Homo sapiens: one gene and its partners. The protein of the gene in region 5 purifies or fractionates together with the protein of the main gene of each other region. This does not show direct contact. Each region holds a gene or a part of one and is shown on either strand. Other genes may lie near its edges. The genes, in order: PALS1, PTGES3, YLPM1, POPDC2, TNIP2, PRRC2A and AMOTL1.

Region 1 (4,253 bases), on a different chromosome or scaffold from region 5:
ACAATCATCTCAATACATGCAGAAAAGGCATATGATAAAATTCAACATCTATTCATGATTTAAAAAACAAACCCTCAGTAACCTAGGAACAGAAGAAAACCTCCTTAACCTCCTTAACAGAATGCACAAAATGACCTACAGCTAATATCATTTTTTAAAAGTGAAAGACTGAATACTTTTCCTTTAAGAAAGTGAGCAAGAAGCCAGGCACTGTGACTCATGCCTGTAATCCCAGCACTTTGGGAGGCTGAGGTGGGCAGATCGCTTGAGCCCAGGAATTTGAGACCAGCCTGGGCAACATGGTGAAGCCCTGTCTCTACTAAAAATACAAAAAATTAGCTGGGCATAGTGGCACTTGCAGTAGGTCCCAGCTACTCAAGAGGCTGAGATGGGAGAATCAACTGAGCCCAGAAAGTCGAGGCTGCCGTGAGCAGTGCTGCGCCACTACACTTTAGCCTGGGGATAGAGTGAGACCCTATCTTAAAAAAAAAAAGTGAACAAGATAAAGATGCTACTTCTCATCTCTCCTATTCGACATCTCAGTGGAAGTCCTAACCAAGACAATACAGCAAGTTAAGGAAAAGAAATAAAAGGCATACAGACTAGAAGGAAAGAAAAGTTTTGAGCACGACTGTCTACTTAGAAAATTCCAAAAAAAATTACTAAAATAAAAAAGCTCCTAGAGCTAATAAGGGAGTTTAGCAGAAAGTCAGGATACAAAGTCAATATACAAAAATTAATTTCTATATACCATCAGTGATCAACTGGAATCTGATTTTTTTAGATTACCATTTACAATAGGACCAAAAAATTAAAATAATTAGGTATAGACTTAATAAAGTATTTGCAAGATCTGCATATTGAAAACTACAATACTCACATAAATGGAAAGAAATAGCATGTTCATAGATGAGAAGACTCAAATTATTAAGATGTCAATTATCTTCAGGTTGATCTCTAAATTAGACACAATCTCAATCAAAATCCCAACAGAATGTATAAATTATCAAGATGATTCTAAATATCATACAGAAAGCAAAGGAACTAAAAATAGTCATAACAATTTTGAAAAAGAATACAGTGGAAGAGTCACATTACCTAATGTGAAGACTTATTTTAAAGCTATAGTAGGCTGGGTGCAGTGGCTCACGCCTGTAATCCCAGCACTTTGGGAAGCCGGGGCAGGCAGATCACGAGGTCAGGAGATCAAGACCATCCTGGCCAACACGGTGAAACCCCGCCTCTACTAAAAATACAAAAATTAGCTGGGCGTGGTGGTGCGCGCTTATAATCCCAGCTACTTGGGAGGCTGAGGCAGGAGAATCACTTGAACCCAGGAGGCGGGAAGTTGCAGTGAGCTGATATCGTGCCACTGCACTCCAGCCTGGCGAGAGAGCAAGACTCCATCTCAAAAAAAAAAAAAAAAAAAACCTATAGTAGGCCAGGCTCAGTGGCTAACACCTGTAATCCTAGCACTTTTGGAGGTTGAGGTGGAAGGATCCCTTGTGCTCAGCTGCTCAAGACCAGCTTGGGCAATATAGGGAGATCTTGTCTCTACAAAAAATTTTAAAAATCGGCCTGGCATGGTGGCATGTACCTATAGTACCAGCCACTGGGGAAAGTGGGAGGATGGCTTGAGTCCTGGAGGTTGAGGCTGCAGTGAGCCATATTCACACCACTGTACTCCAGCCTGGGTGACAGAGTGAGACCCTGTCTCAAAAAATTTTTAAATAATACAGTCTGGGCAACATAGCCAAGACCTTATCTCTACAAATAAATTTAAAAATCAGCCAAGTGCGGTGGCACGCCTGTGGTCCCAGCTACTTGGGAGGATTGCTTGAACCTGGGAGGCCAAGGCTGCAGTGAGCAGAGATCACACCACTGCACTCCAGCCTGGACAGAGAGAGACCCTGTCTCTAAATAAAAAATAAAAATATAAATACAATAAAATAAAAATAAAAAATAAAAAGGATAGACAAAATAGATCAATTGAAGAGTCCATAAACAAACCCAAACAAATGCAGTCAAATAGCTTTTGACAAAGAGACAAGAGGAATACAATGGGAAAAAGATCATGTTTTAAACAAATGGTCATGGAACTGGACAAACAAATAAGTGAAACAACTTGTACTTCTCTCATTTTATACAAAAATAAACTCAAAATGGAACATAGATCTAAAAATAAAATTACAATATAAAACTTGGAAAAAAAAATTGGAGAAAAATCTCTCTGACCGTGGATTGAGCAAAGAGTTCTTAGATACAATATTCAAATTTTAAAAATTAATAATTTGGACTTTCTCAAAATATAAAATTCTATACTTCAAAAGTAATGAAGTATAGAAGTTATGAGGATGAAAAGGCAAGCCAGAGTGGAAGAAAACCTTCGTAAATCACTTATCTGACAAAGATAAAGGACTATATAAAACTTTTGGGGCAGCGGCTCATGCGTGTTATCCCACCACTTTGGGAGGCTGAGGCAGGAGAATCACTTGAGCCCAGGAGTTCTGAGACCAGCCTGGGAAACATAGTGAGACCCCATCCCTAAAGAAAAAAGGAAAAAATAATAAGATAATAATAAATTCAGCAATAAGACAATAATCCAATTTAAAAATGGGCAAAAGTTTCAGACACTTTACCAAAGATAAACAGATGGCAAATAAGCACATGAAAAGATGCTCAACATCCTCAGTCATGGGGGAAATGCAAAGAAAAATCCCAACGAGATACTACTAAAATGGCTAAATCTAAAGACTGACCATACCAAGTGCTGACAGGAATGTAAAGCAACTGACCTCTCATATATTGCTGGTGGAAATGCAAAGTGGTTCAGCCACTTCAAACCCAGCCTGACAATGTATTAGTTTCCTATGCCAATGTAACAAATTGCCACAAATTTAGTGGCTTAAAACAACAGAAATTATTTTACAGTCCTATAGGTTAGAAATCTGGCATATGTCTCCCTTGGCTAAAATTACTGGCAGGGCTGCTTTCTTTTCTGGAGCCTCTTCAAGATTCTAGACACCACTCATATTCCTTAGTTTGTGGCCTGCTCTCCTCCATCTTCAAAGCCAGCAACTTTGCACTTCTCTGACCAATTGTTACATCTTTTTTTCCTGACTCTACTCTTCTGCCTCTCTCTTTCCTTTTTTAAAGATTCTGTGATACACTGGGACCACCTGAATAATCCACAATAATCTCCCTAAAGTCATCTGATTAGCAACCTAAATAAGCCTTTGCCACTTAAGCAAACATATTCACAGGTTCCAGGGATTAGGATATCTTTGAAGACCTTTATTCTGTCTACCACAGATAGGTCTTTTTTTAATTTTAAGATAAAATTAGGCTATACCTACCATATTCCATCTACTTAAGAGAAACAAAAACTTAGGTTTACACAAAAACCTATTTGCAAAGATTTACAGCCACTTTATTCAGTCACAAAAAACCTGAAAACAACTCAAATGTCCTTCAACTGGTGAATGGATAGGTGATGGAACTGTTCTTTACCTTGATTGTGGTAGTTGCACAGCTCTCTGAGTTGGAATTGTACAATGAAAAGTTAACTTCATTTCATGTAAATTAGAGTTAAATATTTTTTAAAGAAAAGAAGCAATTATATCATTTCTCATCCACCAGATTAGCAAAAATTTTAAAATCTTACGATGCCCAGTGTGGGCAAGAATGTGAAGCCACTGTCACTCATACTGTTTGCAGGAATGTAAATGATTACAGCATTAAAAAGGGTAATTTGGCTGTAGCTAGTAATGTTGAAAACACATATCAACCTATTATCAGCAATTCCACTTATAGGTAGGTATACATACATTCTAGGAAAGCGTCCACACATGCGCTCAAGGAGACATACACAAAGATATTCATTAAACATTGTTTGAAATATTAAAAAACTGAAAATTCTTCAGTAGGGGAATGAATTGCAGTTAGTAGTTATTAAAAAAGAAAACGGAAAAAATCCATGACAGAAAGAATCCTGCCAGTTAAGTGATTTGGAAAAGGCAACTTATTGGTTTATCTAACAATGAGACATCCTGAGAAGAGCACTGAATTTAGAATATGGAGACTTAGAATATGGAGAACAGCATTTTAGCATTCATGTAGTTCCAAGTCTGCCCCTAACTAGCAGTCAGACTACGGATTACTTAACTCCTGCAAGCCTCACTTTCTTTTTCATGGAAAATGAAGAGGTTAGACTATATAACCACTAAGATTACTTCCAACTCAACGATCCTATG
Region 2 (4,253 bases), on a different chromosome or scaffold from region 5:
CTATTTGGAGAGGTGAGGTGGGTGGGAGGATCGCTTAAGCCCAGGTGGAGGCTACAGTGAGCCATGTTCACACCAGTGCACTCTGGCATGAGTGGCATGAGACTACCTAAAAAAAAAGACTAGGCTGGTGTCGTGGCTCATGCCTGTAGTCCCAGCACTTTGGGAGGCTGAGGTGGGGAGACTGCTTGAGCCCAGAAGTTCAAGACCAAGCTGGGCAACACTGTGATACCCCTTTCTACAAAAAATACAAAAATTAGCCAGGTGTTGTGGCATGCCCCTACAGTCCCAGCTACTTGGGGGACTGAGGAGGGAGGATCACTTGGAGCCTGGGAAACTGAGGCTGCAGTGAGCCAAGATCGTGCCACTGCACTCCAGCCTGGGTGACAAAGAGAGACCCTGTTTTGGGGGAAAAAAAACACTGAAAATTGTTAAACATACCTTTTGAAAACAAATTTACTAGTAAGAACTATTTTCAGTTGATTATTTTTTCACCAAGCTTTGTCCCCTCCCATGTGATAGCTGAGTAATTTATGCAAAGTCTGTCTCTTAAGTACAAAAGATTCTACACCAGTTAATAACTGATATTCTGATCACACTTCGTATTAAAACTGAGTAGACAAAAAACATGAACATGAGGCTTTATACTTAGCTGTGAAACAAAAACACAGCCATATTCCTTACATCAAATAAGTACATCTTTTATTACCTAAAATAAAAATATCAAACTTTTCAAAAAAGGAAAATGAAACCTACCTTTGCCCTTTCTTTTGTTAACCTTGGCCATGACTGGCCAGATTCTCCTTTTCGTAAACAACATAAAATTGATCTGTCCGTTCTTTTATGCTTGGAATCCTAAAAACAAAAGGACCATCATACCATTTATCTTTCCAGCATCACTACATGATAGAAAATAGCTTGTCATTTCTCACCTTTCTCATTTCTTTACCTAAATTTTCTCTGGACTCTGAAACATGCCCTTGACTACTAAAAACTTCAAACTATCCAACTGCCCCAACCCCCTTTAAGTTTCATTTAAAAAAAAATTTTTTTTTCCCTTCTATTTCCTACTGAAATAATCTGCACAACAATAAAGTTTAAAGTTTAACCTGGTACCATTTTTTTCTTTCCTGCACACGATAAACAGAATAAAACCTTAAAAACTTTAACTAAAAATGATATAACCACAGAATGGTTTAAAGATTCTATTCTTAGATAAGGGAAGCCTTGGCCGGGCGCAGTGGCTCATGCCTGTAATCCCAGCACTTTGGGAGGCCGAGGCAGGTGGAACACCTGAGGTCAGGAGTTTGAGACCAGCCTGACCAACATGGTCTTTACTAAAAACACAAAAATTAGCCAGGCATGGTGGCATGTGCCTGTAATCCCAGCTGCTCCAGAGGCTGAGGCAGGAGAATCCCTGGAACCTACGAGGCAGAGGTTGCAGTGAGCCGGGATCGCTCCATTGTACTGCAGCAGTCTCAAAGAACAAAACCAAACAAACAAAAAAACAAAACAAATAAAAAAGATGAGACGAGCCTCAAGGATACTACTCTAAGCCCAAACAGTGATAGCAAAAACAAAAAGTATGCAGAAACCAATTTTGGAGGAAATATTCTACAAAATGTAAATATACATAGTTTGCCTCACTGTTAAGAAAAACAGAACTAATGCTCATTGCTAAAAAGAATACTTGGTATGTCTGTTTCCTCACAACTAAAATTTGGATTAAAGCATAAAGACTACTTACATTTGGATCAATACAGTGAAAAAGATCAATTTCATTTAAATGCTTAAAATTATCACTTCCTCCGAGACAACTGTATAAAATAATAAAGAAAGAATTAAGCCTCTTCAAAGAGACAAAGATTAATAATAACTTCAATGAAAAGACAAGCCAGTCAAAGTTATTCAGTTGTGTGAATGACTATTTTACATCATTGGATAAAAAGCTTAACTTACCTGAATGTAAGTTTGGATTTTTCAAAATTTACATTAACATCCTTACTGTCTTCAACACAAAATTCAATGAAGACATAGTCCCTTCGATCGTACCACTTTGCAGAAGCAGGCTGCCTACAAAAGGATAAAGTAGGGAAAGTCAAGCTGGAATTCATTAACTAAACATTCACATACTAACCTTCGACACCATTATAGCATTATTTCAGGGCAGTTTGTTACAATTTTAAACAAAAACTACATTTTTACCCTAACAGCTACATTCCAAGTTAAAACCTATGGGTCTAACAAGATTTAGTTTCAGAATGATTCCAATTTCATAATAGGAAAGATTTAAAAACCAAACAATGCTTAGTAGAGTTAGCCGTTTATCTAGTCCTATCAAAAATTATGTTACTTGGCTGGGTGCAGTGGCTCACACCTGTAATCCCAGCACTTTGGGAGGCCAAGGCAGGTGGGTCACTTGAGGCCAGGAGAGCTAGAGACCAGCCTGGCCAGCACAGCGAAACCCCGACTCTACTACAAATACAAATACGGAAAAAAAAAAAAAAAAAAAAAAAAAAAGCAGGGTACGGTGGCTCACGCCTGTAATCCCAGCACTTTGGGAGGCTGAGGTGGGTGGATCACCTAAGCTCAGGAGTTCGAGACCAGCCTGACCAACATGGTGAAACCCCATCTCTACTAAAATACAAAAATTAGCCAGGCACAGTGGCAGGCGCCTGTAATCTCAGCTACTTGGGAGGCTGAGGCAGGAGCATCGCTTGAACCTGGGAGGCGGAGGTTGCAATGAGCCGAGATTGCGCCATTGCACTCCAGCCTGGCAACAGAGCGAGACTGTCTCAAAAAAAAAAAAAAAAAAAAAAAATTAGCTGGGCATGGTGATGCAGGCCTGTAGTCCCAGATACTTGAGGGATGGGACTGAGGCACAAGAATCACTTGAACCCGGGAGGTGGAGGCTGCGGTGAGCTGAGATCATGCCACTGCAATCCAGCCTGGGCAACAGAGACTCTGTCTCAAAACAAACAACAACAACAAAAAACACTGGTACATCAGAGCTTCACTTTTTACATTAAGTTCACTGAAACCAGGAGAATCAATCTCCTTTCCTCAAATTCAGCAATCTAGAATTTTATCAGTTTCCTCAAAATTAATACATTGAAGTCCTAACCCCCAGTACATCTTAAGAATGGGATTGTATTTGGAGAAAGTGTCTTTAAATGACAAGTAAATATGAGGTCTTAGGATAGACCCTAATCCAATGACTGTTGTCCTCCTATATAAAGAGATTAGCACAGAGGGAAGAAAGAAGATAGCTATCTGCAAACCAAGGAAAGGCCTCAGAAGAAACTAATCCTGCTGACACCTTCGCCTTGGATTTTCAGCCTCGTGGAAATGTGAAGAAATAAATTTCTGCTGTTTAAGCCACCCAGTGTGTGATACTTTCTTATGAAAGCCTTAGCAGGCCAGGCGCGGTGGCTCACGCCTGTAATCCCAGCACTTTGGGAGGCGAGGCAGGTGGATCACCTGAGGTCGAGAATTCGAGACCAGCCTGACCAACACGGAGAAACTCGTCTCTGCTAAAATTACAAAAAATTCAGGCGGGCACAGTGGCTCACGCCCATAATCCCAGCACTTTGGGAGGCCGAGGCAGGAGGATCACAATGTCAGGAGATTGAGACCATCCTGGCTAACACGATGAAACCCTGTCTCTACTAAAAATACAAAAAATTAGCCAGGCATGGTGGTAGGCGCCTGTAGTCCCAGCTACTCGGGAGGCTGAGACAGGAGAATGGCATGAACCCAGGAGGCGGAGCTTGCAGTGAGCTGAGATCAGGCCACCGCACCCCAGCCTGGGCAACAGAGCAAGACTCCATCTCAAAAAAAAAAAAAAAAAAAAAAAAAAAAATTCGCCAGGCGTGGTGGTGCATGCCTGTAATCTCAGCTACTCAGGAGGCTGAGTCAGGAGAATCGCTTGAACCTGGGAAGTGGAGGTTACGGTGAGCCGAGATCAGGCCATTGCACTCCAGCCTGGGCAACAAGAGTGAAACTCGGTCTCAAAAAAAAAAAAAAAAAAAAAAAGTGCTGGTTCACACCTGTAATCCCAGCACTTTGGGAGGCAGAGGCAGGCGGATCACGAGGTCAGGAGTTCGAGACCAGCCTGGCCAATATAGTAAAACCCCGTCTCTACTAAAATTGCAAAAATTAGCTGGGCGTGGTGGCACGTACCTGTAGTCCCAGCTATTTGGGAGACTGAGCCAGGCCAATCAGTTGAACCCAGGAGGTAGAGGTTGCAGCGAGCC
Region 3 (4,253 bases), on a different chromosome or scaffold from region 5:
TATTTTCTTCTGAAGACAAAACTTAAAATAGGTCCTAAATTCACACAGCCAAGATTTAGTAGGCAAAGAGAGAAAATATTAACATGACGGAAATCAAGGGAGCAGGAAATGTATGTTTCATGAGGTGTTAAGAATGTACTTCTCTGATAGCAAATTAGTTACCAGATCTAAAAGGCAATGCTCATTCCAGGAGATTAAGAACGAATTCAAATCAAGATGATACACATGCCAAATAAGCACTGACAGTATAGGCTTGAATCATGGCAGTAAACAGAGCTTAAATAGTACTTTTGCTTTGGGGACCCTCTAGACTCAACTGTACCTATTCTGGGGTTCTACTCACTCTGCTAAATAATCCTGACTGAGCAAGTTACGCAGTCCTCTCAGTGCCATTTTGTTAAGAGTAAATGGAGAATAATCTGCCTACTTCACAGGTTGTTGAGAAGACTTCCATGAGATAATAATGTGTGTAAAGTCTCTAGCAAGGCTTCTTGGTACACAGAGGAATTCATGTTAATTGCCCTTTCTCTTAACTTTGATTGTGGATGGAGTTTTGTGCCACACTGCTTTCAGAATTATAAGCTTGGGGAATAAAAGATATATTTTGTTTTCAAATGTTAAAATGAGGTTGAAAAAAATGATGATGTAGATCCACTGATACTGAGATGAAAATCTAAGCAATACGCAGATTGGTGGAAAAATAAGTTATAAGATAATCTACTCAGTATGATCCCATTTCTGCAACATATATTTTTAAAATGATTCTCTCCAGATGGTGGAATTAGGTGACTTTCACTTTTTTCTACACTTTTCTGTAATGTTTGAATTTTGTATAAGGAGTACCCATTTCTACTACAATTCCCAACTGAGAAAAAAACTGATTAAAGTATTTTTCTGGCTGAGCGTGGTGGCTCACACCTGTAATCCCAGCACTTTGGGAGGCCACGGCAGGCAGGGAGGCCAAGGCAGGAGGATCGCTTGAGCCCAGGAGTTTGAGACCAGCCTGGTCAACATAGGAAGATCCCCATCTCTACGAAGTATTTTTTAAAAACTGGCCAGATGTGTTGGTGCGCACCTCTGGTCCCAGCCACCTGGGAGGCTGAGGTGGGAGGACTGCTTGAACCCAGGAGGAAGAGGCTGCACTGAGCCATAATTCTATCACTGCACACTAGCCTGGGTGAAAAACCGAGACCCTGTCTCAAAAAATAATAATAATTTCCATAGAAAAGTTATCATTTAGGTCAACTTGGGGAGAAAAATCTATTTTTACAAACTTGGAAAAAATGAATTTAACAGTTTTTAGAAGGTAAAGAGAAAAAACTTACACACCAGCAATTTTTTTTCTTTCTAAATATGTTGTTCAGGATAAACAGAAGTATCTCCTTAACTGGGGAAAATATAAAGGATGTAAGCTCCATGGGGGCAGGAATTTTATGTGTTCTGCTATATTCACTGCTCTAAGTACAAGAGCAGGAACTTAAATATTTGCTGAATGGATAAAATAAAAGTCCTACTTACCTTATGCTAAATTTCACTGCCTCAAGCCAGTAGAATATTGGCTTATTCATCTTTATCTCTAACAACTAACAAATTATCTAACAAATAGTAATTGCCAATTCAATTATTTGTCAAATGAATGAAAAAGCAAACAAAAGATAAAGTTTAATATTATTTTTAAAGCTAATAAGTCAATACAAAATGATTAGCATTACTCTACAATACTACATTCATTCTGGATTATAATCTCTACATATAGGACAAAAGCAGAGACATCAAAGAAATGGGGGCATGTTACCTTTTCTAGATTACATACGTGATGTCTTAACAAGCAGACAATATAAGTACAAAGAGAGTATAAACATTGTATAAATGAAGCTTTTTATACCATCGAGAACCAAATAGCCTAAGTCAATAAAATAGCCAAACCAAAAAAAAAGAGAAAAAAAAGCAGACCTACCTTGGGCCTCTTGGACTTTCCAAGTAACTACTTCTAGGAGGATCTGGAAGCAGGCCACCTGATCTCACTGGCATGTCCTTCACTGCAGTGATTGGCTGAGATGGAGCAGCTGAAGACTCCCCAAGTCCTTGATCAGATGAGAATGAACTGTATGGCAGAGCAGACTTGCTCAAAGGAGCTTTTGAATTCACTTGTTCTGATGGACCAGCTGATTGCAACGGAGGATGGTAAGTTGTCGGTGGGGCAGAACCAAAAGACACAGGAGTAGGAAGCAGTGCTGGTCTAGGTTTCTCTGGAACTTGCGAGCTCTGTGAACTGGAGGCTGGTGGAACTGGGGCTGCTGTTAACTGAGGAGGTATCCCTTGTGGAACTCCAGGGGGAGGTATTCCTGGAGGAGGTGTAGCTGAAGACAATGGTGGGAGGGGCATGACAGGTGGAGGTGCTGTTGAAGAGAGAGATGGTGGGGGAAGAACTGGTGGTGGCCCTGCAGAAGACAGGGAAGGTGGGGGGAGAACTGGTGGTGGCCCTGCAGAAGAGAGAGAAGGAGGCATCCCTGGTGGGGGAACAGAGGTTGGTAGAGAAGGTGGCATAACAGGTGGGGGCATGCCAGGTGGTGGCACTGTAGCAGGGAGGGCAGGGGGCATCACTGGTGGTGGCAATGAAGGAGGCAACACTGGAGGGGGCATTGTAGGTAGAGGTGGAGGCATCTGAGAATATGGAACAAAAGGAGGTGGCATTGACATGTTCCCCATATACTGGTTCTTCATGTTCTGAAATGAATTGACTTTCTCCTGGAGATAGCTCTGAGTGGCTTTCATATGTCCCTGCCATGTTTTCCACTGCTTCTCATACTCCTGAAGCTGATCTTTATGAGGATAGGAATGGAGTTGTTCCTCCCATAGCTGAAACTCTCGCTCCCATTCTTGGTAAAGATGTTGAAACTGTTGCTGCTGCATCTCATAATGCCGCAGCTGCATATCTACAGACATGGTCTACAAATAAAGGGATAAAAACTATTTAAAACCATTCATATAAGATAATTAATCATAGGTTAAAATATTAATGAATCAAGGGCATTTGACGCTTTAGGAAATTAGAACACTAAAGACTTTGGGAGGCTAAGAATAAGTTCGTTAAGTTCTTTGAGTGATGATCATTCTTCTTCCTTCCTTTGGCTTAGACAACTTACTACAGAGTTGGAAAAACCAACCAAACAATAAAGCAAATACCTATCTTAGCAATAAGTATTTTTCAAGTTTTTAATATGGATAATTTCAAGAACTTGAAAAATGATCTGTTATTATAGATATACAGACACAACATTACCCCTCAAAGATACAACACAAACAAGTATCTAAGTCACTTTATCTTTTACGGTATATTTGCTTAGGTTTTTTGTGATGGCTGTTTTTGGCCTCTTTGCTTATCTGTTACTGTTGTAGTTTACAGGCAAAACACAGGTTAACCTGTAGCTATATGGTAAAAATCCCCAGCTCTTAAGACCCTTAGCAATAGTAAGCTAACATCTGGCCTGGGTTGACATGATCAGGAAACTCTACTATAACCAACCCCTCCCCAGTCCCCCAGGTAATGTGGCAGATAACTACTTGGGCACCCCTTGGGAAACAACTAATTGTCAACAGTTGGTATCTTTTGTTTTTTACACTTAAATCTTTCAAGAATAACAAATCCTTTCAATGTCTTGGGGCAACTTCCTATTGTGGACTATGGAAGCACTTGCCTGTATATGTGGTGGGGGCTGTATAATCTGCTGATACTGTTGTAGAATCTGCTGTAACTGAGTGTGCTTCTGCATTATTCCCTGATACTGGAAACCGACTCGATGCTGCTGGTGCTGCTGCCAGTGTGCTGCTGCAGCCTGCAACTGCTTTAACCTGGCATCTTCTTCTGGGTCCTCAGACTAAAGATAAAAGAGGACACATCTTTATGTAAGTCATAAAACAGCAAGCAAAAATATTTTATAAATGTATTATAAAGTCCAGAATCCCTACAACTCAGAAATATCCAACTGTCAAACACAGTATCTTCAGTTCTTTTTGGATTGAGAACAGCTATTCTATCTTTAGATAAAACACATAGCTCTATCTATACTATTATGGATACTAATACAAAGGAGTTTATAAATTCCATAGTCTTCACTGGAATAATAATCTTATTATTCCTAAATATGACAACAATTTTCCCAGTGGAAAGTGGTCCCAGGCCGGGCACCATGGCTCACACCTGTAATCCCAGAACTTTGGGAGGCCAAGGCGGGTGGATCACTTGAAGTCAG
Region 4 (4,253 bases), on a different chromosome or scaffold from region 5:
ATGAGAAAGAATTCTGAAAATAATACAATCTGTCCATTACTAATAGTTCAGCAAGTAGTTGTCACATCTGCCATGGCCTGTACCTTAGATGTACTTATGAACAATTCCCAAACAAGAAATCAGAGTACCAAATATGAAGCACATGTGTTTGAGCAAGAACTACGCCGAATGTAAATAATGTCTTAAAGCCAAACACAAAGACTGTGAACCTTCTTAGAAATATGCTGTACTTCTTCCATCTTAAAATAAAACAAAATTTTACAAATAAAAATTCTTTTTCTCGAATTCACTTCCCTGGCTAGCTATCACTCCACTAATTTGCTTCCCTTTTTAGCAAAACTCATGAAGAAAAAAAAACCTGTTTATACTTAACTGTCTCCAATTCCTCTCTTCTCACTCTCTTAAACCAATAAGACTTTGTCCCTAGCAGTCCACAAAGACTGTTCCTGTTAAGGTCACCAATGACCTCTAAGCTGCTGAGTCTGATGGTCAGTTTTCATGGCATCCATCAATTTCCCCTTCCTCTTTGATATATCTTCTTCACTTGGTTCCCAGGATGCCATACACTCCTTGCCCAATCTCATGATTGTTCCTTTTCAAGCTCCTTTGCTGCTTCCTCCTTTCCTCTCCAACTCCTCACCACTAAAGTATCCCAGGGCTCCGCTCTTGAACCATTCCCTCTTCCATCCACACTCACTCACTTGGTGAGCTCATCCTATCCAATGGCTTTAAATATCATCTGCATACAACCAACTCCCAAATTTATGTCTCAGGCCCAGATCTCATTCCTGAATTTCAGACTTAAATATCCAGTTGCCTATGCAGCATCTCCATTCAAATGTCCACAGATGATGCAAACCTAACATCAAACACTGAACTTCCTAGTCCCCCGAAAGCAGCTCTACCTGCAGCTTTCTTTGTCTCAGTTGACAGCAGCACCACCTGTCCAGTTGCTCAGGCCAAAAGCCTTAGAGTCTTCCTTGATCTTCTCTTTCTCTCACATACTATATCCAACCCTTTAGAAAATCCTTTTGGCTGTATCTAGACAATATATGCTATGGCCCTACATGATCTTGCTACCTCGTCACCTCTCCAACTTTCTCTCCTGCTATTCCCTCCCCTTCCTCTCTCCATTCCAGGTCCACTGTCCTCCTTTCTGTGCATCAAACACACTGGCCCCACCTCAGGGCCTTTGCACTGGCTCTTTCCTCTGTCTGATATGCTTTTCCCAGATATTCACAGACCTCACCTGTCATCTCTCTCAGGTTTTTGCTCAAATGTTATCTGCTTAACAAGGATTTCCATGACCACCCTATTTAAAATTGCCACCATTTCTCCCTTGCACTACTCTAGGTTTTTTTTTTTAAACTAGCAGTGATTATCCTCTAACAAATTATATAATTTACTTATTCATTATGCCTATGGCTTTTTGTCTCCCCCATTAGAATGTAAATTGCATGAGGGGAGGGACCTTCATCTGTTCTGTTCACTGATATATTTCAAATCCTTTTAACAGTGCCTGGTATATACTAAGTTTTCAATAAATATTATTGAAGTGAATAAATGAATCAAGGGAAGACAGCCAATCTTGTATATTGCAAAACAACCTAATGTCACTTTCTTCCCCCACCCCACCGCCCCCCTGAGACGAAGTCTTGCTCTGTCACCCAGGCTGGAGTACAGCGGTGTGATCTCAGCTCACTGCAATGTCCACCTCCCGGGTTCAAGCAATTATCCTTCCTCAGCCTCCCGAGTAGCTGGGATTATAGGCACCTGCCACCACCCTGGCTAATTTTTGTATTTTCTAATAGAGATGGGGTTTCACCATGTTGGCCAGGCTGGTCTCAAACTCCTGACCTCATAATCCAACTGCCTCGGCCTCCCAAAGTGCTGGGGTTATAGGTGTGAGCCACCGCGCCCAGCCTCTAATGTTGCTTTCTCATGTCCTGTATAAAATCCTTCCCCAAAGGTCCTCCTGAAATCTGCTTCTTGATTGGTTCTCCCATATATATAGACATATCTGTTGTAACGTTTTGACAAGTATTTAGCTTTTTTTTTAATACTCATCTCAGATGTTGGTTGAATGAATTAAATGAGATAACCTATGTAAATAGGACTTAGGTCCAGTAAGATAGGATGCAAATTAGAAAAACAGTGATGATTTCTGTGTGATCCCTCCTGTGCTGTGTTCTTGGTGACTAATGAGTGTCACAGTGCCGAACACACAATGAATTCTGACTTAATTGAATTGTCGAGAGGTGTGCTGGAATGCTGATTGATTTATATTAGGTACAATGTGAATTATAATTTAGGCTGTCACTGTGGATTGCTCTCAGTCAACAAAGACTATGTAATTGCAAAAGGCAAGGACAGGATGAACTCTAACTTAAGATAACACTTGACATTTGCAAAGAGGAAATGGGACTTTACACAGCCAATAGCAAATGTGTGGCTCTCATTACTCCCAAAGGAGGTACACGCTAAAAATATAAATGGGAGGAACATGACCATACCTACATTCCAGGCTGAGAGGCCATGTGAGGTTACAGCCCTTCCTCTTGAGCGTAACTTAGGGGAGGACACCCGGCTTACCCACCACCTGTTCCTCCGTGTCAGTGTCAGAAAGAGGCCTGGTCCAGCTGGCTCAGGTCCTGACTGAGCCCTCCTGGAGGTTCTCATGTGCCTGAGAGAGTTCCTGAAGAAGGTTTCTGGACTAGTTAGGGAGGGTGTGTGGACGGAGGTCAGGGTAGGAACATGATGGAAGTGGATCTGTGGCTGGTGACCCTGGCAGTGGGATCAGGACTGCCTCTCAGGCTCCATCATCACAGAGCCAAGTGTCAGGGTGGGGGCAGAAGCAGGCCCTGCCAGGTAGCACTGCCCGGTGTGTGTCTGTTCCGGGGTTGGCTCATATGTTGGCTTGAGGGACTCCCTGATAAAAGTAGTAGGAGACACATGGAATCCAGTGTTTCCAGGTCCAGCAAACTATCCAGGCAGGGGAGTCCTTAAAAGGGTGAGTGAGTGTGTGTGCGCGTGTGTGCATGCGTGTGCATGTGTGTGTGTGTATGTGTGTGTGTAAACTCTACTCTTCTGGTGACCTTCCCATTTTAATAAAGAACAGAAATGGTAGATCCAGGCAACTTGGCTTTGTCACTTTCTAGCTGAAGACCCTGGGCAAATTACTTGATGTTTTTGGGCCTTAGTTTCCTCAGTTGTTAAATGGAGTAATAATCATATTCAACCCATAGAGTTGTTATGAGAATCAATGAGGCAATATGATACGTAGTGCCTGCCACATGCTAGCCATTCAATAAGTGAGAGCTACAAAGAAAGTGACCAAAGCCTGAGGGATTGGCAGAGATAAGAAGAGTAGGGGCCAGGCAGCCAGGAACCTGCATTGGAGCATGTATGTGAATGCCCCATGGAGTCCTCTGGGACACCAGCTGCCCAGTGGCAAACCAGTTCAGCAATTCTTTTTTTTTTTTTTTTGAGACGGAGTCTCACTCTGTCGCCCAGGCTGGAGTGCAGTGGCGCAATCTCGGCTCACTGCAAGCTCCGCCTCCCGGGTTCACGCCATTCTCCTGCCTCAGCCTCCCAAGTAGTTGGGACTACAGGTGCCCGCCACCATGCCCGGCTAATTTTTTGTATTTTTAGTAGAGACGGGATTTCATCGTGTTAGCCAGGATGGTCTCGATCTCCTGACCTCAGGATCCACCCACCTCAGCCTCCCAAAGTGCTGGGATTACAGGCGTGAGCCACCGCGCCCGGCAAGCAATTCTTTACTGAACAGCTGCTGTGCTCCAGGTACTTTCCTTTAGAGTCTGGGAACAGAGAGGGAAAAGCCTAGATTTGTACTTCAGAGTTCACTGTGCAGAAGACAGAAAGGAGACCAGATTATTAGAACAGACAGCAAGATGTGCACCAGTTAGCATAAGTAAAAGGACTAGAACAGGCACACAGGAGTGCTAGGCTGTGGGGTGGAAGCTGGTGAGGCTGTGGGGTGGAAGCAGGCTTCACAGTGGAAGTGAGGTTCCGTGGTCTCATCTAGAAGGGGAAATGCATTTCAGAGGGGAGAGTAGGGGCCAAGGCATAGAGCTGCAAAACAATGTGGTGTGTTTAGGGAAGTACTAGTGGTTCAGCATGGCTAGTATGAGCAAAAAATATGAAGGAGGGAGAGCTGGAAATGCGACTAGAGAGCACTAAAAGGTTTAAGTTACCCTATAACAAGTGTGGGTTTTTATGTTGTGGCACTAGGG
Region 5 (3,347 bases):
CACGGCTGACGTCCTAGCTCCAGCCCGGGACGCATCGATTCTCAAGAGGCATCACTACTGTTCAGTCTGTGCCAGGAGAGGAAGCTCTTTGAGTGGGGCCCAGGCTATTCCCAGGGCCAAAAGTGTGTTAGGTACTTGATGAGGAGCTACATAAACTTCTCCTGGATTTTTGCAGAGCACAAGTCAGTGAGGAGAAGGAAGAGGCCATGGGTCACACACTGAGGAACTTCATCGGTTCCCATTCATGCCAGGCCTCCCTCAAGGCACCCCATGGTAGGAAAAGCACTGAGCCCAGGGGTGGGGTGAGGGGCCCCTGCCCTGCAAGGCCCAGCTCCACGTGCCAGGCTGAGCTGGGGATGTTACTGGACACCCAGGGCCATCACATCTACATGACAAGGTAAGCGGGGTTCCCGTCTCACAGACAGGTCAGGACACGTAGGGAGCTCACACTTTGAGGCCCGAGATATGCTCTCTGACTGCATGACAGTGACGGACGGGCCCTGAGGACAGCCACCTCTGCTAAGACAGGCCGCCATGCCAGCCTCCTCCATAACTAAACAGTATAACAGGGAGGCTTTCCATGACCACGCCCAGGTACCAGGCCAGGTGGCTCTCCCCACAGCAGGGAGGGGCTCGCCACAACCCTCATCACCAGCAAATCAGGGCCTTGGCAGACACAGAAAGGCTCTAATCTCATGAGAAGAGAAACAAAAACACTAAACCTAAGCAGGAAGAAAAACGCCCTCATACTCTACCTGTCTCCAGGACACCTGGTGCAGCAAAGAGGCGACCTTTTCCTCCAGTTCTTGAATCCTACTTTGAGCCCGTTCCCGATCGGCCCTTTCTGACATGAAGTCATCCTTGTAAGCGAGAATCTGAAGAGAGGCGAGACACACATTTCTGCTCAAGGAAGGAGGAAGCGCCCCACCAGGCTTCTCCCACCCCCACAGTGACCACTGCCCACTCAGTGCCACCAAGCCTTCAGCCCAGCCTGTCCCATGATTTCGGCCACCACCGGCCAGCAGACATCTGGTCAGTGCCGTCCGGAGCCCGAGGGACAGACACCTGCTGTTCCAGCATCTGCACCCGCTCCAACGCAGCATCCCGGGCCGTCCTGGAGGCCGCCAGCTCCTGCTTCACTTCGGCACAGTCATTTATTTTCTCTTCCAACTGTCTGTTGAGCCGGGAGATCTCCTTCCTCATCAGCTCGGGCTCGTGGGGGATCTGCAGCCCCCTGAGCTGCGCATGGAGCCCCCTCACGTATTCGTCCCTGCTGGCGTTGTAGCGCTGCCACTTGGCATTGAGGTCTTCAACCTGAAGAGGTGGAGCCGGAAAGCTCACGGTGAAGGCAGCTGACAAAGCTGCTCAAGCCAGCACCCAGTGTGAATTATGTATTAGCAGTGATTCGCTGAGTGAGAGTTTCCTCTTAAATGGAAGCTGCCCCTCCCTGTTCTGTAGAGAGCAGACACTAGGCCCGCTAGAGAATCCTGAGGCAGCACGATGACACCCGTACGCAAGCAGCATGAACGGAGGTGGACTCGGTGCAGCTTTGCTGTCTTAGAAAATGGACCTCCTGCTGCTAACTCTTGCATCTCCTTTACTGACTTGTGGATTAATTTTAGGGGGATGGAGATGGACAGGACATGTCCCGTACGTCGTTTTAAGCAAAAAAGTCCAGTCTCTAGGGACTGTGTGTATCAAGTCCTAGTGGCCAGAGGGCGGGGGGCGACTCTGGGCATCAGCCAAGGAAAGAACCCTCACTTACAGTTTGTAAGCCATGTGTTCTTCTCAAACGAAATGTGAAAGACACTCACGTGAGTCACCTTCTGTTTTAACAGTCGATTTTCTTCCTGCAACTTCTCAATAACACTCTGGACAGAGGTGTGCCCATCTGTGTGTTCCGACTGCATGAGGAAGGGACAGAGAGAAGACACTCTGTCACATACAGCAAGAGGGGAGAAAGCTAGACCCAGAGGCTGAGGCCACAGATTATCACTGCGTCCCCCAGTGCAGCGGGTAGTGATCATTCATTTGGTAGAGAAGCAAAGCAGGGACAAGGGACCACCTTCTCCCTGCCCAGGCCCACCCCACCTGGCCCAGGCCAGAGCCCGGATGGGAGGTCTTCAGGCCACACCACCTTTCACACTGTCCTTATCCCGTCCCACCTACCAGTTTGAGCTGTTTGTCTTTTAAATATTTGGAATGTAAATATTCTAAAGCCATAATGTCTGCAGGGATTGGCACACCAGACATGATAAAGTCTTCTCATTGCCAGAGATTTGCCATTATCACAGACAGCAGGGAAGGCAGGAAGCTGAATCCCATTGTAAACCAGAGGATCTCCAGTGAGGGGGCCCCCAGCTGCCCAGGGTGGGCCTGGCCATGCACCCTGCTTACCTCCTTTGGAGCCCATGACACTGTCCTGTCTGCAGACAATCGGGTTCAACCAGGTGATTCTGGACACAGGAATCTAACCTCTGCCCCACGCAGGGTCAGGAGTCACCGAAGCCACAACCCAAACCAACCCCCACTAACAACTACAGAGCTGAATGAAAAGTCTCCTGAAACTCGTGTGTACCCTACAATTCTGACTGTATCTCAGTGACATAATTTTTGAGAATTCCCCTCAAATGACAAAGGAAGTGCACGTCCTAACACAGCCTACACCGGGAAGCCCCGGGTGACTCAGCTGAGTTCAGGGCTGAGAAGTGACACTTATTTAGAGACTGTGATGAGGGCCTACCCTGCCACTGGCCCCACCCCCGCCTCAGGCTCAACACTGTGTGTGGCTCCTTTCAAATCCCCAGAGGGAAATGACACAGTGACTCAAAATCAGACCAGAACACCCTGCCTCCGCCCAGACGGCACTTTTCCTCTGGTTTCTGAATGCAGCTGTGTCCTCTCTGAGGTTCCCCGCCTGGAATCCACCCAGCTGAGGTGGGCAGTTCTCAGACCAACCTTCTCCCCAGTGGGCGCCTCGGTGAAGCTGCTGATGGGTGCGGGATGTACTGTCTGCCACAGAACATCCCAGCGCGTGTGTTTCTGCATGAACCTTGGTGCTGCCTCAGAGAACTGCCTAGAAAGGACCCGAGCGAGAGGCCCTGTGCCCGGCAGTGCGAGTGAGATGGGGTCTCAGCCTAGGTGAGATGTGCACGGAGTGCCTCCATTCCCCTGCCTGCCACACACAGACCACCACAAGCACCAGCAAGATGGAAGGTGCCTGGCACACAGATGCCTTGGGCCACTGCTCCCCTACTTTTCTGCCTAGGAGCCCCCTGGTTTCTCCTGATGCTGAAACTCCCACGGTCCTTCTCTCTCCCACTAGACCCCACAGAGAGCTACAGCCC
Region 6 (4,253 bases), on a different chromosome or scaffold from region 5:
TTCTTGATAGGGATTTCATAGATTTTTTTTTTTTTTTTTTTTTTTTTGAGACCAAGTTTAGCTCCTGTTGCCCAGGCTGGAGTGCAATGGTGTGATCTTGACTTACCACAACCTCCACCTCCTGGGTTTAAGCGATTATCCTGCCTCAGCCTCCTGAGTAGCTGGGATTACAGGCATGCGCCACCACACCCGGCTAATTTTGTGTTTTTAGTAGAGACAGGGTTTCTCCATTTTGGTCAAGCTGGTCTTGAACTCCTGACCTCAGGTGATCCGCCTGCCTCGGCCTGCCAAAGTGCTGGGATTGCAAAGTGTGAGCCACCACAATCAGCGCGATTTCAGAGATTATTAAGGGCAGGGGAAGGAATCCCTTCTAAGAGAAGTTTGGAGGAAGTAGGTAATAAAATATTCAACATGTATAAATGTGTCCCAGGATAGGAGGCCATCAGATCTCCCACATGAGGCATTTTCGACCCTCTCTCCGTCTTGTTCTCCAGTTGCCCCTCGCCATGGCCTGCAGAGTCTCGGGAAAGTTGCCATTGCCCGGCGTATGCCACCTCCAGCCAACCTTCCAAGCCTGAAAGCCGAGAACAAAGGCAATGACCCCAATGTCTCACTAGTGCCAAAAGACGGAACAGGATGGGCAAGCAAACAGGAGCAGTCCGACCCCAAGAGGTAGACAGAGGCTTGGGGGACCTAGAGTGATGGGTATTTTAACTTGAACTTCAGGGAGCATTGGGGCTTGGTTTAGTCCAGCCACGTCTGAGCCAGAGACGAAGAGGTCCCTTTCTTACCTATTGCAGGTTCCTTGTTAAATGACTAAGGAATGGTACTAAACTTTAGCTTTTTGTCTTGGAGAGAGAGCATGAAAAAATAGACAACAGCCTACAAAGGATGACAAAATTAATTTGTCCTTATATTTGTAAATGGTAGCAATGGGCATGATTTCAGTCCTGAGTCTCCACCAGTTGGAGAAGTCAGGGAGGCATCTCAGGTGTGAATAACCTTCCCATTCTGTCCCCTCAGTTCCGATGCCTCAACCGCTCAGCCGCCGGAATCGCAGCCACTGCCGGCTTCACAGACGCCTGCCTCCAACCAGCCGAAACGACCCCCAGCAGCCCCCGAGGTACCTGGAGAACTGGAGGGGTGGGGAGGAAGAATGGTTCATAGCTGCCCCACCCACATCATTTATCATCTTTCTGAACACTTCCCCAGAACACTCCTTTGGTTCCAAGCGGGGTAAAGTCCTGGGCACAAGCCAGCGTCACCCATGGAGCACATGGAGATGGTGAGTGCAGCACTTAATTGGGGAGCTGTGTCTGGGCACCATGGGATGCATGAACCCTGCACTGTATTTTCAGCCAAGTGACCTTGGTCCTCTTTGGCTAAATCAAGGACCACCCATATTCAGTTTCATGGAGGCACATGAGCAAGTTTAAGTCTCAGTCTTATATGATGGAGTGTAGTGGTGCCAGAACTGACCTCCTTGGGGAATAAGCAGTTATTCTGTAGGGGGGTGAGTTTGAAGGCGGGAAACCTGATGGTCTGGTACCTGTCAGAGCCTTCCACTTTTTTTTTTTTTGAGACGGAGTCTCATTCTGTCACCCAGGCTGGAGTGCAGTGGCGCAATCTCGGCTCACTGCAACCTCTGCCTCCTGGGTTCAAGCGATTTTCCTGCCTCAGCCTCCAGAGTAGCGGGACTACAGGCACACGCCAACACACCCAGCTAATTTTTTGTGTGTTTTTAGTAGAGATGGGGTTTCACATGTTGGCCAGGATGGTCTCGATCTCTTGACCTCGTGATCCGCCCGCCTCAGCCTCCCAGAGTGCTGGGATTACAGGCGTGAGCCACCGCGCCCAGCCAGAGTCTTCCACTTTTATAGCATGTCCTCAGGAAATGTCTTCTGTCTCCTGTTCTGCATCCCCATCCTAATAGGTGGAAGGGCATCAAGCCTACTGTCACGATTCTCTCGAGAGGAATTTCCGACCCTGCAGGCGGCTGGCGACCAGGACAAGGCTGCCAAGGAAAGGGAGTCTGCCGAACAGTCGTCTGGGCCCGGACCAAGCCTCCGCCCCCAAAGTGAGTGGCTGCCTTTTGGCCAAGACATTACCTATTGCATCTCAGAGCTAGGTGCTGGCTTATTCACCTTCCTCCCCATCACTTTCAGCTGTGTTCACTTGTCCTCCAATCATTGATACCTCTCTCTACCTTTTCCAAAATACAGATTCTACAACTTGGAGGGACGGAGGTGGGCGTGGCCCTGATGAGCTGGAGGGCCCGGACTCCAAACTTCATCATGGTCATGATCCCCGGGGTGGGCTACAGCCTTCAGGCCCACCCCAGTTCCCTCCCTACCGCGGAATGATGCCGCCTTTCGTGAGTCTTGGTGTCTTGTCTTGGAACGATTACACTGGAAGCTGGAGAGCTAGGAATCAGGACTTAGTCTTTGACCTATGAGATAGAAGGGAGGGTGGGAGGATGATTGATAGCAGGCTTAAGGAGCTAGAAGGGTATATGACTGTCCCTCTGAGCAGCTACTGTTGGACCCTTTTACAGATGTATCCCCCATATCTCCCGTTCCCTCCGCCCTATGGACCCCAGGGGCCTTACCGATACCCCACTCCTGATGGGCCCAGGTGAGCAATCCAGGTCTGGGTTTGTGGCTGGGGGCAGGGGAAGCTTATTGGGGGAGGAGATGGTTTTCTAGCCAGGAGGCTCAGTCTAGGATCAGTCTCGCATGTGGTTATACAACATGCCATATTTCATTTTCTTTTTTGTGTACAGCCGTTTTCCCCGTGTGGCGGGCCCCCGAGGCTCAGGGCCACCAATGCGCTTAGTAGAGCCTGTGGGTCGTCCCTCTATTCTCAAAGAGGATAATCTCAAAGAGTTTGATCAGTTGGATCAGGAGAATGATGATGGTTGGGCAGGTAAGTGGATATTAAGGGTCAAGAATTTGGATCTTGAAAGGCAAAACCTAATGAGGAAAAAAAAATACAGGGTTATGTGGGTGAAAGGCAGACATTGAAGTGTAGGAAGACCAGGCCCAATGGCTCACATCTGTAATCCCAGTGCTTTGGGAGTGTTAGGTGAGAGGATCGCTTGAAGCCAGGAGTTCAAGACCAGCCTGGGCAACACAGCAAGACCCCCCACCTCTACAAAAAAAAAAAAATTTTTTAGTTGGGTGTGGACTGTGCATCTGTGGTCCCAGCTACTCTGGAGGTTGTGGTGGGAGGATCAGTTGAGCCCAGGAGTTGGAGGTCACAGTGAGCTATGATCGTGCCACTGAACTCCATCCTGGGCAACAGAGCGAGACTTTTAAAAGGAAAAAAAAAAAAGAGTAGGGGAGGATGGATGGGGAATACCAAGTCCTTGCAAAGTGGTGAGAGGAGTAAGAATGACAAGACTTCATTGGTGGATCTAGACTTCGGAGGGAAGGATATTGGCATTGGTAGTCCATCTTGTTACATAGTTCCAGACTACCTCCCAAGATTGGAGGGCAGAATGCTTGGGTTACTAATACTCATATTTCCCCTCAGGGGCCCATGAAGAGGTTGACTACACTGAAAAGCTCAAGTTCAGCGATGAGGAAGATGGGCGAGACTCTGATGAGGAGGGTGCTGAGGGCCAGTGAGTTAGGGCCATCAGGGGAGAAGAGGAGGGGGTCTTGGTTTGTATTTTGGTAATATACTCTTAGAGGAGTATATTAGTTGCAGCTGATTTTAATTTCACTGTTGATCTGCTCACAGCAGGGATTCCCAATCAGCTTCTGGTGAGGAACGGCCCCCTGAAGCAGATGGCAAAAAGGGCAACTCCCCCAACAGCGAACCGCCCACTCCTAAGACGGCCTGGGCAGAAACCTCTCGGCCTCCAGAGACAGAGCCGGGACCTCCTGCCCCAAAGCCTCCCCTACCCCCACCTCACCGGGGCCCCGCCGGGAACTGGGGCCCCCCTGGGGACTACCCAGTGAGTGTCTCCAATAAGGGATTGAGAGGGTCAGCTGTGGGAAATTGGTGTCAGCTGAGTAATTGAAGCGGTTGTGATATAGAGGAAGGGGGGTGCTAAAAATGGGCTGTGTGAAGTGCCAGGCTGCAGAACATCCTGGGAAGCTTTTAAATATCTTTGGTAATAGGGGAGTCTGGGTAAGAAGTGAGAAACTGGGATGCTAATGAGGAAAGAAGAAAAAGGAGCCCTGGGTGTTTGGGTTTCGGAAGGAGAGAGGGAACAGAAAAATAAAAAGACTAGGGTGGCTAGATAG
Region 7 (4,253 bases), on a different chromosome or scaffold from region 5:
GTCTATGTGGTTGTACGTATGTACACAATGGCCTGCAGCTTCCTAAACCATCACGATCAATGACAAACAGATAACCCTTTAAGCACAAGATAATGTGTCAGTGAAATGAAAGGGGCCCTACTTGTCTTCTGGGTCACAGGCAAGTTGAACATGACACACTGCTGAGTTTCAGGTCCAATCCTTCGAGTTCAGGCCACGTTAAATGTGTCTGAAGCAGGGCTGGTGTGGATGCAATATTGTTTACCCAGTCAGCCAAGGGCTGCACCACTGGAGCCATGCTGGCTAGCCATGGCCCTGTTCACAAAGGGGCCTTGTGGCTCTGGGACCCAGCCTCAATGGCCTGTCTGTTACGTCTCCTGAGACATTTGATGCGTCATATTAACCAGCTGCCAAGCCTGGCAGTCAGCTCAAATCCCTCACACATTTCTTCTTCTTTCTAACGTCATAACTTTGAGAAAAATGACCTCCAAAAGTGTTCCCCTCCTCCCCTGACCATTTCTCCCACCTCACATCACACCTATTACCAAATGACAAAAGGCAAAGTGATCCACTGTATGCATTGCACGGTATGTACATATTACTTTACAAATAGTAAAGCAAAGAAGAGGAAGGGGATTTCATTTCAGGATAGCTTCCCCTCTATCAAGCTCTAGAGGCTGAGTTAAGTTATCAGGGAAAAGGGTGAAATATAATAAGCCAAACTCTGGTATGATGGTGGAATAACATCATGGCTTATTTTAAACAACTGTGGTAAATCACTGTGATGCAAATACCAGGGATTTGATCAAGGAGCTATAAAGGGGGAAGAAGAGCCTCCTGGATCCCATCTTGGATTCCTGGGAGGAGTCCGGTTATGCCCACTTAGGGAGAATGCGTTCTCCTGCCTGGCCAAGATCTCACAGTTGGTTATGCTGCTTCTGAGCTGGCATTCTCAGTCTAATGTGGGGAAATGTGTCAGTGCTGGGAAGCCAGTGGCAGATCAGGCCACTCTCCCTCTGCCAACCTCCAGCCTCTCCTTTTTCAGAAGATGTACAGCCAAGGTATGTCCTGCACATAGCCACTGAGGTCGCTTGGGAAAACCCTGGCTTGTTCAATTTAGAAACAGATAATAAAGCCCTTCATGAAAATGACACATCCAATAATAGGCAGTGGCCACATGTCTTTTCTGTTCATGTTCCCTGCCCCTCCTTCAATGTCAGCAACATCTAAACATTTCTGACTCCCAAAGTGTGATCTTCAGACCCAATTTCTCTCCTGAGAGTTTGATTCGTAATTCCCTTATTTCCATCATCCCTATTCCAGAATTTCTGTATCTAACCAATCCCTAAACCCTGTCAGTTCTATTTCCCTACCTCTCTTAGCACATAATGCTCCTCTATTCTCCCTGCCCAAGCTTTGGCCACCCTCACCAATTCTGATCTGGACTACTGAAAGCATCCCTGGAGCTCCTTGTGGCGTGGGGCTCCCTTTCCTCTAATTCATGCACTGCCACCAAAATCAGCTGTTAGACATCCACTTACCATCCCTACCTAAGAACACCGCTTTTCCCGATTGCTTATGGATACATTCTAAACTCCTTAATACGACACCCAGAGACCGTCATCATCAACTTCCCTGTCCAAACATACCTCAACCAAACGGGTCCCAACTTCCCTGTCCAAACATATCTCCTGTCACTTCTTACCACACCCTTGCCCACCAGTGCTCTGCATTATTGCCACTCATTCCAGACAAAAATCCTCATGACCTCTTTGTCTGAAGACACGGCACTCCCTCACACAGCACATACTGCTACTTCATCTCTACCCTACAACTCTGATTTATCCTTCAAGTTCCAACTCAAATGTCACCTCCTCTGGGAAGCTCTCTCCAGCCCCTCCAGTTGTGAGTTATACTATCCTACCTGTTACCCTAGCATCCTCGGCCCATTTCTCTCCTAGAACAGCACATTGAATGGCAATGATCTGTTCAGATGCTGGTTTCCTCCAAGACAATGCTATAGGGTCCTGAAGGGCAGGGACCCCATCTCTGAACCAGGAACAGGGCTTCAGAGTACAGCATACACTCAGTAGGTGCTGCTGAATCCATCAATCAACTGGAAGAATACAAGTGAAGGCTGTAGGAAGAATTAGGGCAAGGGAGTGAATAGATTTTGGCAGTCAGGATACTTGAGTGTAGCCCCCAGCTGCCTCAGAGTTGTGTCTATGAAATTCATTAATCTCTCCAGGCTTTAGTTTCTCATCTGTTGAGTGAGGGATGGGACTATGTGATTTCTACAGTCCCTTTAACTCCTCCATTCTAGCATTCAGACTACATTTTCCTTTAAAATCTACAATGAAAAAAGACTATAAAACCCTCTGGTAATAATATGTTCCAGGAGTTTGGACGGTCTCCACAAAGCCATTGGAAAATTGCTACTTTGCCAGGCCACTAGGCAGAGCTCCCAAGGACAGCTAACAAGTGAGGTCCCTCCCCTAAACTCATAAATCCCCAACTGCCTGCTGCTATGTTTGGAGAAAATCCCTCAGTTGCCCTCTACTCTATTTCACCCTATATATTCTGGCCACAAAGTGGTTTATTAAATATCATGCATAAGGAAAAAAGCCTGATGACAAAAACCTAATCTGCTCTGAAAATAATAAATGCTAATAACATGACTATTGAATTTTGAAAAGCCGCACGAAACGTCTGCAGTTGATAATCACCTCGTTACCCCATACTCAGGGGGTGGCTGGTACCGCAGGACGGCCACATCTGTTCTCACAGGCTGAGGAGCAGGGTAGGGCTTGACCATCTCGTGGAGCATCCCGGGGTGCTGGTCACCATAAAAAAGTCCGTGCTCCTGGGTCTTGCTGACTGGGGACATCATTTGCTTGGTCTTGAAGGGGTACTCAGGTGGAGGACCCCGAGGGTCCAGCACTTTACCTGCAGGCTGGGCAGGGGAGGGCCCCCCTCCTACTTTGAAGCCCTTTCCATTCCCCGAGCCGGGAAGGTGTTGCTTGGCCCCATTCCTCTCCAGGGACAGCTGCATGATTCTCTCGCTGAGCGAGCGGACGTGGCCCTGCTTCAGTTCCTTCAGCGCCTCGTCCTTATGCGCCTGTCCACTGTTGGCACGGTTCACAGTGGGCCTCCCCTCAGTTCGGGACTTCTGACTGGTGCCCCCTGCCATGTAGTAACCATGGCCCACCGCCCCCTGCTGCTGTTGCTGCTGCTGCTGCCCCCTGAAGAACTGCGACTGTGCTTTGGCCTCCTCGTAAGTGGGCAGTTCCTCGTTGTTCTGCTGAGGCTGCGTGGACCGGACCTGTTTCTCCATCACCGTATTGTCCACCTGGTGTTCTTGACCCTGCGGTTCTTGGCGTGCTGACTGGTAGACCATTTGTGGGTCTTCTTGAGTGAGGTTTTCCGTGGAAGAAAAGTTGTTTGTAGGATGGGCTGGTCCTGCACTCCCTGTGGCCTGGTGCTGAATGGCCAGCAAGTTCATGTTCTCGGTTGGGGTGCCATACCGCAGTTGTTCCTGGATCAGCCGCTGCAATACTGTTCCAGCTGCCGCATCCTCGGAACCTCTCATTTCCACCTCTGAGATCCTCAGGAAGTTTGGGGAGTGGAAGTTACAAAGAGGATCTTCAACTAAAAGATAAACATAGGAAAAAAGATATCAGGCAGCTCCACAGGAGATATATGTCTGTGACTATGTGGTACATAATTAACATTCTAACTACAGCAACATTTAAAAATAAGATTTCAAATGCATCATCACCTCCATTTACCTGGCAATGTCTCATGGAATTTTCTTCTCCAATTCAAAGCGAGTCTACTATTCTGCACTCCCTCTCCTCTGCTTCCTCTTAAACATTGTTCCATCCTTCAACCCCTCCCTTTTCTCTAATCTCCCCACCGGTCCTTTCTCTTCATCACATAAATATACCCAAGTCTTTCCCATTTAAAAAAAAATACAAGAGAAAACCAAAATCAAACCAAAAGAAACCACCTTTTCTTGGCCCTCCCATATACCTCTAACTACCACCCTGTATCTCACTTTTCCTTCTCATCTAGTTGTCTTTGGTAAGTACCCTACACTTGCTGTCTCCCCTTCCCAAATGCTCCATCCACTAACCTCCCCACTGCTCTGACCAGTAAGCAAATCCAATGAGAATTTTCCAGCCCTCATATTATACACCTAACTTTTCTGAAGCATTTGACATGGTTGGTTACCCTCTTCCTGCAATGCTCTCCTAATTCGGCCTCCAGGTCAC

The links.
Region 1: the proteins of TNIP2 (region 5) and PALS1 purify together in Homo sapiens (affinity purification with mass spectrometry, with the first as the bait; 2 studies listed by BioGRID). This does not show direct contact.
Region 2: the proteins of TNIP2 (region 5) and PTGES3 purify together in Homo sapiens (affinity purification with mass spectrometry, with the first as the bait; one large-scale study listed by BioGRID). This does not show direct contact.
Region 3: the proteins of TNIP2 (region 5) and YLPM1 purify together in Homo sapiens (affinity purification with mass spectrometry; 2 studies listed by BioGRID, with this or other methods). This does not show direct contact.
Region 4: the proteins of TNIP2 (region 5) and POPDC2 purify together in Homo sapiens (co-immunoprecipitation; one large-scale study listed by IntAct). This does not show direct contact.
Region 6: the proteins of TNIP2 (region 5) and PRRC2A purify together in Homo sapiens (affinity purification with mass spectrometry, with the first as the bait; 2 studies listed by BioGRID). This does not show direct contact.
Region 7: the proteins of TNIP2 (region 5) and AMOTL1 purify together in Homo sapiens (affinity purification with mass spectrometry, with the first as the bait; 2 studies listed by BioGRID). This does not show direct contact.

Annotation. Positions count from the first base shown.
Region 1 is NC_000014.9:67,243,827-67,248,079, reverse strand, and holds part of PALS1 (protein PALS1), read right to left. Parts: intron 1-4,253. UniProt on the Homo sapiens protein: Plays a role in tight junction biogenesis and in the establishment of cell polarity in epithelial cells.
Region 2 is NC_000012.12:56,670,996-56,675,248, forward strand, and holds part of PTGES3 (prostaglandin E synthase 3), read right to left. Parts: intron 2,071-4,253; coding exon 1,957-2,070; intron 1,815-1,956; coding exon 1,745-1,814; intron 853-1,744; coding exon 754-852; intron 1-753. UniProt on the Homo sapiens protein: Cytosolic prostaglandin synthase that catalyzes the oxidoreduction of prostaglandin endoperoxide H2 (PGH2) to prostaglandin E2 (PGE2).
Region 3 is NC_000014.9:74,780,030-74,784,282, reverse strand, and holds part of YLPM1 (YLP motif-containing protein 1), read right to left. Parts: intron 3,879-4,253; coding exon 3,699-3,878; intron 2,950-3,698; coding exon 1,958-2,949; intron 1-1,957. UniProt on the Homo sapiens protein: Plays a role in the reduction of telomerase activity during differentiation of embryonic stem cells by binding to the core promoter of TERT and controlling its down-regulation.
Region 4 is NC_000003.12:119,650,010-119,654,262, forward strand, and holds part of POPDC2 (popeye domain-containing protein 2), read right to left. Parts: intron 1-4,253. UniProt on the Homo sapiens protein: Important for the maintenance of cardiac function.
Region 5 is NC_000004.12:2,743,632-2,746,978, forward strand, and holds part of TNIP2 (TNFAIP3-interacting protein 2), read right to left. Parts: intron 1,905-3,347; coding exon 1,815-1,904; intron 1,315-1,814; coding exon 1,066-1,314; intron 876-1,065; coding exon 756-875; intron 1-755. UniProt on the Homo sapiens protein: Inhibits NF-kappa-B activation by blocking the interaction of RIPK1 with its downstream effector NEMO/IKBKG.
Region 6 is NC_000006.12:31,623,238-31,627,490, forward strand, and holds part of PRRC2A (protein PRRC2A), read left to right. Parts: intron 1-494; coding exon 495-672; intron 673-1,023; coding exon 1,024-1,123; intron 1,124-1,212; coding exon 1,213-1,285; intron 1,286-1,933; coding exon 1,934-2,077; intron 2,078-2,222; coding exon 2,223-2,374; intron 2,375-2,554; coding exon 2,555-2,634; intron 2,635-2,782; coding exon 2,783-2,925; intron 2,926-3,534; coding exon 3,535-3,625; intron 3,626-3,744; coding exon 3,745-3,961; intron 3,962-4,253. UniProt on the Homo sapiens protein: May play a role in the regulation of pre-mRNA splicing.
Region 7 is NC_000011.10:94,798,764-94,803,016, reverse strand, and holds part of AMOTL1 (angiomotin-like protein 1), read right to left. Parts: intron 3,628-4,253; coding exon 2,706-3,627; intron 2,679-2,705; exon of another isoform or gene 1-2,678. UniProt on the Homo sapiens protein: Inhibits the Wnt/beta-catenin signaling pathway, probably by recruiting CTNNB1 to recycling endosomes and hence preventing its translocation to the nucleus.